2 linked regions of the Homo sapiens genome follow. The protein of the gene in region 1 purifies or fractionates together with the protein of each later gene. This does not show direct contact. Each region holds a gene or a part of one and is shown on either strand. Other genes may lie near its edges.

Evidence for each region. Proteins that work in one complex are often made in the same cells at the same time.
Region 2: the proteins of FOXD4L1 (region 1) and CT45A2 purify together in Homo sapiens (affinity purification with mass spectrometry, with the first as the bait; one large-scale study listed by BioGRID). This does not show direct contact.

What each region holds. Positions count from the first base shown.
Region 1 is NC_000002.12:113,497,417-113,501,464, forward strand, and holds FOXD4L1 (forkhead box protein D4-like 1), read left to right. Parts: upstream 1-1,248; 5' UTR 1,249-1,840; coding exon 1,841-3,067; 3' UTR 3,068-3,734; downstream 3,735-4,048.
Region 2 is NC_000023.11:135,817,213-135,821,418, forward strand, and holds the start of CT45A2 (cancer/testis antigen family 45 member A2), read right to left. Parts: upstream 2,801-4,206; 5' UTR 2,562-2,800; exon of another isoform or gene 2,545-2,561; intron 1-2,544.

The sequences.
Region 1 (4,048 bases):
CTAATTTTCATGAAGCCAATCTAAAAATCGTGTTACTTCTAAGGATGTGGAGCGAGTGAGATGAACAGTTGTGCTGTCATATTGCCCCTCCCCAGTGCAGACAGTGAATGAGGACCCACTGATTTAAAGGCAACACTGCAGCCCCTTCTTGCCTCATTGAAGTCCCAAGTTTTATTACAGTAAAAGCACTTAATGTTGACATTTCTGAAAGAATGAAGAGGCCGGGCGCGGTGGCTCACGCCTGTAATCCCAGCACTTTGGGAGGCTGAGGCAAGCGGATCATGAGGTCAGGACATCGAGACCATCCTGGCTAACACGGTGAAACCCCGTCTCTACTAAAAATACAAAAAAATTAGCCGGGCGTAGTGGCGGGCGCCTGTGGTCCCAGCTACTCGGGAGGCTGAGGCGGGAGAATGGCGTGAACCCGGGAGGCGGAGCTTGCAGTGGTCCGAGATTGTGTCACTGCACTCCAGCCTGGGCGACAGAGCGACAACGTCTCAAAAAAAAAAAAAAAAAAAAAAAGGAAAAAAAGAATGAAGAGCCAGAGCCAGGCATAGTGGCACGCCTGTAGTCCCACCTACTCAGGAGGCTGAGGCGGGAGGATCACTTGAGCCCAGGAATTCAAAGCCAGCCTGTGCAACATAGACCCTGTCTCTAAAAATGAATTGGTTATAAAGGATGAAGAAAGGAAGGAGGAAAGGGAGAGAGAGAAGCCCTTATAGAGTGGGTGCATTTCTTGTATGTGGGGCCACTTTGTAAGAACAGGATTTTTCAAACTGGGCCCATACTGGTATGTGTGAAATCAATTTAGTTGGTTATGGCCATTTTTTTTTAAAAGGAAATATCAGTGATCACTATAGTGTAAGTATATTGTTTCGTGAAAGCCATCTTAGTTATGTATTATGTCTGTATGTGTAAGATTGTGATATAAAATGTATTTCTGTGGTTAAATATTCAAAGAAATTGGAGAACCATTGCTACAAGGGGACAGAGGACTCCGTGTGAGCTCTCCTGCCTTCCCTGAATAAACTTACACAATTTAGTGCTGGGACATTTGAACCTTTTCTGAAAATTTGAGTCAGGGGAGAGCATCTTGGGGAGGTGGGAAGGAAGGTAGAAGGAGCAAAGCAACACCCCCCTGAAGCCTGGGAATATTGTCAGAACCTTAAATATAATTCAGCTCACCATTCTGGGTAAGGACAGACTCTACCAATGAAAATGGGTGATTACCAGCTGTGAAACACAAAAACATACTTTTACGGTTACACATTCCTTTACAAACAACCGTGTACATTTCAGCCTCCTGCCCCACCATTTCTTTTCTCCAGGAGGGAAGGCTGCATGTCGAGATGGTCGTAGAATGTTGAGTATCCTACTTTCCTACCTCGCTTTTATTTGCGCGGGTTTAAATGCGCCTTAACAGAACCCGTGCAAAGGCTTGCCTACTTGTCTGGCTGCACCGGATGAGTAGAGCATCTTCCTTGGTGGCAGGTGGGTGCGAGGAGGAGGGGGCTGGGCTTTTCTCCGGACGGTGTTTGCCCAGAAGACCATCATCCCTGGACTACGTTAGGAGGAAGTGGCACCGCTCCGAGGTAGGGGAAGAAGGGTTATAAAGGGGGGAGTCCACCACACATGGTCTTGAAGAAGCTTTTATAAAAGGCAAAGGCATCTTTGCCGGACGTTGTTGCAAAGGAGTAGAAACAAGCAGAGGAAAACATCCCAAAGGGTAACCACTAGCGTTCCTGCTTCTTGCAACATTCATCCCAGGCTTCCAGCTCAGCCCGCCCCGGGCCAGGTGATCGGCCGCCACATCCCCTGCGACTGAAGCACCTGCTCCGCCATGAACCTGCCAAGAGCTGAGCGCCCTCGCTCCACACCGCAGCGCAGCCTCCGGGACTCCGATGGGGAAGACGGTAAAATCGATGTCCTGGGAGAGGAGGAAGATGAAGACGAGGTGGAAGACGAGGAGGAGGAGGCGAGCCAGAAGTTCCTAGAGCAGTCGCTCCAGCCGGGGCTGCAGGTGGCCCGGTGGGGCGGGGTTGCGCTTCCCCGAGAGCACATCGAGGGCGGCGGCCCGAGCGACCCCTCAGAGTTTGGCACCGAGTTCAGGGCACCGCCAAGGTCTGCGGCGGCCTCTGAAGATGCCCGGCAGCCGGCAAAGCCCCCCTACTCGTACATCGCGCTCATCACCATGGCCATCCTGCAAAGCCCGCACAAGCGCCTCACGCTCAGCGGCATCTGCGCCTTCATTAGTGGCCGCTTCCCCTACTACCGCCGCAAGTTCCCCGCCTGGCAGAACAGCATCCGCCACAACCTCTCGCTGAACGACTGCTTCGTCAAGATCCCCCGCGAGCCGGGCCACCCAGGCAAGGGCACCTACTGGAGCCTGGACCCCGCCTCCCAGGACATGTTCGACAATGGCAGCTTTCTCCGGCGTAGGAAGCGTTTCAAGCGCCACCAACTGACCCCGGGAGCCCACCTGCCCCACCCCTTCCCTCTACCTGCTGCACACGCCGCCCTGCACAACCCCCGCCCAGGCCCTCTGCTTGGGGCCCCTGCCCTGCCGCAGCCAGTCCCGGGGGCCTACCCCAACACCGCCCCCGGGAGACGCCCTTACGCTCTGCTGCACCCGCATCCTCCTCGCTACCTACTGCTCTCGGCCCCCGCCTATGCCGGGGCACCGAAGAAAGCAGAAGGCGCGGACCTGGCGACCCCCGGCACCCTTCCCGTGCTGCAGCCCTCACTTGGTCCTCAGCCTTGGGAGGAGGGCAAGGGTCTGGCGTCGCCACCGGGAGGCGGATGCATCTCTTTCAGCATTGAGAGTATCATGCAAGGGGTCAGGGGAGCGGGTACAGGGGCTGCGCAGAGTTTGTCCCCGACCGCGTGGAGCTACTGCCCCCTGCTCCAGCGACCGTCAAGCCTGTCGGACAATTTTGCAGCAACAGCAGCAGCATCAGGAGGAGGACTGCGCCAACGGCTGCGCTCCCACCAAGGGCGCGGTGCTGGGCGGGCACCTGTCGGCCGCGTCGGCGCTGCTGCGGTATCAGGCGGTGGCAGAGGGCTCTAGGCTGACATCGCTGGCTGCCCCTTTGGGCGGAGAGGGGACCTCACCAGTTTTTTTAGTATCGCCCACGCCCAGTTCCCTGGCCAAGTCCGCAGGGCCCTCCTAGAGCCAGGTGGGAGTGGGGAGCGATCCGCAGCTGCTCACTCCACCTTGCGCGGCCCATACTGGGCGTGTGCATCTGAATCCTGCTGGAGAGCAAACACGAACTTCTGTTCCCTGCAAAATGGTTAGAAAGAAACAGCTGGATTACGTTCCTCTAAAAACCACCTGAACGTAACCTTCGCAGGGCGTCAAGTCATCTTTTCTTGCCTTCGGCTGTGGCTTCTGTGGCTTTCCGGATTTGCACATTTCCTGGGGTACTATGAACGTGAGTGGGGTATTTTGTTCTGGCATTAGAAGAAAAACAAGCAAGCAAACAAAAACACAGCCTCCGATGCCAAACATGTTCCCCCTTCTTCACTTCCTTGGAACTGGAAGTGTTATTCCTAAGTCTAGTGCAAAATGCTTCTACTCTCTGTGTCTTCCTGATAGGGATGTTTAATGTAAGTAGGATATTAATTTCAGAACATTGATTTCTTATCTGTGTGTCTGACGTGCCATCTTTAATGTTAAAATTAAGGTGTTAAAATTAAGCCTAGTTATATAGACGAAATAAAATGCTAAGTCACTACACTACATCGTTATTTTCTATTACGTCTCATTCTTCCCTTTCTAAATGGAACTTTTTAAAACCTACATTATTTTCCCTCAAACAATTTATTTTCACAATTCATATTTATTATAGATAGCAGAAGTAATCCATTTTAATATGGCCTTTAAAAATTCCAAATATTTGAGGTTGAAAATGTCCTGGCTTTTAAAATAGGAAATTTACTATTTATGAGACTTCTAAAAGAAAAGAATAGGAGGGCATGTAAATATATTCTCCATTTATTTTTCCTCACCCCCCAACAAGCTGGAAAACCGTTTGAGATCAATTTGGAA
Region 2 (4,206 bases), on another chromosome or scaffold:
TTTGAAAACAAGACAAAGATGTCCACTATCCATTCAACAATTTACTGGAGGTTCCAAAAAGTGCCATATCATCAGGAAAATACAATAGGTTTAAAATTTGGAAAGAAATAAAACTGTCATTATTCACAGATGACATTGTTCTGTACATAGAAAAATGCAGAAGAATAAAATCATTACAGTTAATAAGCAAATTTAGTCAACTTACTAGATACAATGAAAACCAATGGCATTTCTGTATAATGAATAGCAATTCTGTATAATGAATGGCATTATACAGAATGGCAATTCTGTATAACGAATAATTAGAATATGAGATTTCAAATGTCATTAAAAACAGTTCCAAAAACATCAAATATTTAGGAATAAATCTAATCAAGATGTGCTAGAGTACTTCACAAAAATTATAAAACATCACTCAGAGAAATTCAAGACTGCAGTAAATGGAGAAAAATTTTCTTTCCATGCATTGGAAGACATTTTTTTTTTTTTTTGAGTCGGAGCCTCGCTCTGTCACCCAGGCTGCAGTGGAGTGGCACAGTCTCTGCTCACTGCAACCTCCACTTCCCAGGTTCAAGCAATTCTCCTGCCTCAGCCTCCTGAGTAGCTGCGATTACGGGCGCCTGCCACGACGCTGGATAAAGAAAATGTGGTACATATACACCACGGAATACTATGCAGCCATAAAAAAGAATGAGTTCATGTCCTTTGAAGGGACATGTGTCAGCAAGCTAACACAGGAACAGAAAACCAAACACCACGTGTCCTCACTCATAAGTGGGAGTTGAACAATGAGAACACATGGACGCGGGGAGAAGAACATCACACAGTGGGGCCTGTCAGGGGTTGGGGGGCTAGGGGAGGGATAGCATTAGAGAAATACCTAAGGTAGATGACGGGTCAATGGGTGCAGCAAACAACCATGGCATGTGTCTTCCTATGTAACAAACCTGCACGTTCTGCCCATGTATCCCGGAACTTAAAGTATAATTTTAAGAAAAGGAATATTATCGTAATGGCATTGGGTGAGTCAAAGATGTTTCTTAAAATAATAAAAAGCACTATCCATAAATAATACACTAATTAATAAAATTAAGAGAATCTGTTCATCTACAACACATTATTGAGATCGTGTAAAAGCAAAAAAGATTTATAGAAGATACTAAAATTGTATATGTATTTTTGTATATGTACATATACGCCTGTGTGCCTGTGCGTATAACTCAAATACAGAATATATGGAAACTACAAATCCATTTTTAAAATACAAACATCTCAGTAAAAGCTGGGGGAAAATACCTGAAAAGGAACTTCATAAAAGGCATAGTTAAATGACCAATAAACACATAAAATGGTGCTAAAAAAAAAAAAAAAAAGAAAACAATAAATAGCTGGGTGTGGTGGCACTGCAATCCAGTCTGGGTGACAGAGGGAGACCTCATCTCAAAAGACAAACAAAAATCAATAAATAAAAACAATTTCTTAAAAAGGTGCTCGATCTCATTAATCAGCAGAGAAATGCGAGTGTAGACACAAGGAGAGATCACTGCACACCCATCAGAGTGGCTGGAATGAAAGACTAACTGTACTGCGAGTGTTCGAATGTGGCACAGCTGGAACCTTCGAATATTTCTGGACTCCCATTCCCACACAGACACCTGAGGCTGTGGCTGAAAGGTCAGATAGAATCCCAGGAAAGAGCTCCTTCAGAATTGCGATCAACCAACCGAGGAAAAGCACCCCAACCTGGGTCGAGACAGAGTTCCCAAGGTCACGTGGCCTCCTTCATGGCTGACACAGAGCTCCCTGAGTCCCACCATAGGCTTAGAGAATCCAAGGAACATTACCCCACTCCCCGGCGGCACCGGGAGAGAGCACCTACAGATAATAATTTTAAAAACCCAGCACCAAGAGAAAGCATCCAGTAAGCGTCCACAACGGGGATAAGCAGAACCAAAGAAAAGCCAACACATTGTAACTGAGAGCGAGCAACATCCGAGGACAAATGCGCCTCACGGCCGACATCAGTACCCAAGGAAGAGTCCACCAGAGGTTGAGATAAAGCCCCCGACAGTGACCCCACAGGGCTACGATCATGTGTCCGGGGCACAGCCACCCCCACCACGTTCCATGAGCACAGATAGTGACCCCAGGGCAGAGTCCCCCCTCAGGACAGCGACTGAGCGGGAAAGAAACACCGCCGCACCCGAGGCCGACACAGGCAACCAAGGCATGGCCCCCACCCCCCGGGCTCAGGTCATTTCAGCAGGAAAAGTCGCCTTTTCCATCACCGACAGGGAGCCCCCAACAAGAGCCCCCAAGAAAAGCCCCCTGGCCCCACAACATAGCCGAGACGGGGTGCCCAAGGAAAACGCTCCCCCGCGGCTGACACAGGCGCCCATGGCGGTGTCCCCAGAGCTAAGCCACTTCCCCAAGGGAGCCCTCCCACACACCGGACAGAGAACACCACAGAAAAGACTCTTTCTGAGGAAAAAGGACACTTTCCAGGGCGAAATTAAAGCATCCAGGGAAAAACTGCCCACTCACAGTCCTGAAGTCCTGACCTTGCTGGAGGAGAGACGGCGGCACCTCACAAAATGGCAGTGAAGTTGTGGCGCCTCCCCACTGGTGGCACTTTCTAGAAACCTGCCCTCTGGGAGTTGTGGGAAATGTGCCCCCTAGGGCACCTGGGAGTGATGTGCATGGGGAGGCGTCTCACCAGAAGCACCGATCCCGTTTGGCCCAAGGGGGATGGGAGGAAGGGAAGTAGCCAGCCACAGCGTGCCTGCCCCAGCCGAACACTGGGAACCTGTTGGGGGCGCCAGAGTGCTGAGGAGAAGCCTCGTGCCCCAGAGAACCAGGAAGCGCAGCCCTCCCCTTCGCTGACTCTGGCGCCCTCTACAGGCGACCTTCAGTAACAACTGCACAGCAACGTATGCGGAGGAATGCAGAACCTTCTCACCCAGCGGGATGAAATCGCCTGGGTAACATAGTGAGACCCCGGCTCTACAAAGCAACCAACTAATCAAAAAAGAAAGAAAGAAAGAAAGAAACACACAAATTAGCTGGGCCTAGTGGCCTCGCACCTGTGGTCCCAACTACTCGGGAAGTTGAGGTGGGAGGATGGCTTGAACCCGGGAGGTGGAGGTAGCAGTGAGCCACTGCACTCCAGCCCAGGCGGTAGAGGAGACCCCATCTCAGAAAAAAAAAAAAAAAGAAAGAAAGAAGGAAAAGAAAAGAAAAAGAAAAAGAACAACAACAAACTGCAATTTTCATTTGAGGGGGTTGTGTTTTAAAGTCAACCCCGACCCGCCACAGTGGCTCACGCCTGTAATCTCAACACTTTGGGAGGCCGAAGGGGCTGGACCACCTGAGGTCAGGAGTTCGAGACCAGTCTGTCTGACCAACATGGTGAATCCCGTCTCTGCTAAAAATACAGAAAATTACCGGGCGTGGTGGCATGCACCTATAATCCCACCAGCTACTTGGGAGGCTGAGGCTGGAGAATCGCTTGAACCGGGCAGGCAGAATTTGCAGTGAGCTGAGATCATGCCACTGCACTCCAGCCTGGGTAACAGAGTGAGACTCTGTCTAAAAATAAAAATCAATCAATCAATAAATAAAGTCAACCTCTATCTGTTAAAGGTAACCATTATTGTTAATTGATAAGAAAAATGAGGGCCCCAGTGCGGTCGCTCACGTCTGTAATCCCAGCAATTTGGGAGACCAAGAGGGGTGGATTCCTTGAGCCCAGGAGTTCAAGAGCAGCCTGGGCAGCATGGTGAAACCCCATCTTAACACAAAATACAAAAATTAGCTGAGCGTGTAACTGTGGTCCCAGCTGCTCGGGAGGCTTGACACCAGGAGGTTGAGGCTGCATTGACCTTTGTTCGCACCATTGCACTATAGCCTGGGTGACAGAGTAAGACTGTCTACAAAAAAAAAGAAAGAGAGAAAGAAAGAGAGAAAGAAAGAAAGAAAGAGAAAGAAAAAAGAAGGAAGGAAGGAAAGAAAGAACGAAAGAAAGAAAGGAAGGAAGAAAGGAAGGATGGAAGAAAGAAGGGAAGAAAGGAAGAAAGGAAGGATGGAAGAAAGAAGGGAAGAAAGGAAGAAAGAAAGAGAGAAAGAAAGAAAGGATGGAAGGAGGGGAAACCTTATTATATTGCATCTATTAATCATTTTAATCTGGAACTTTGTATATTTTTCCAC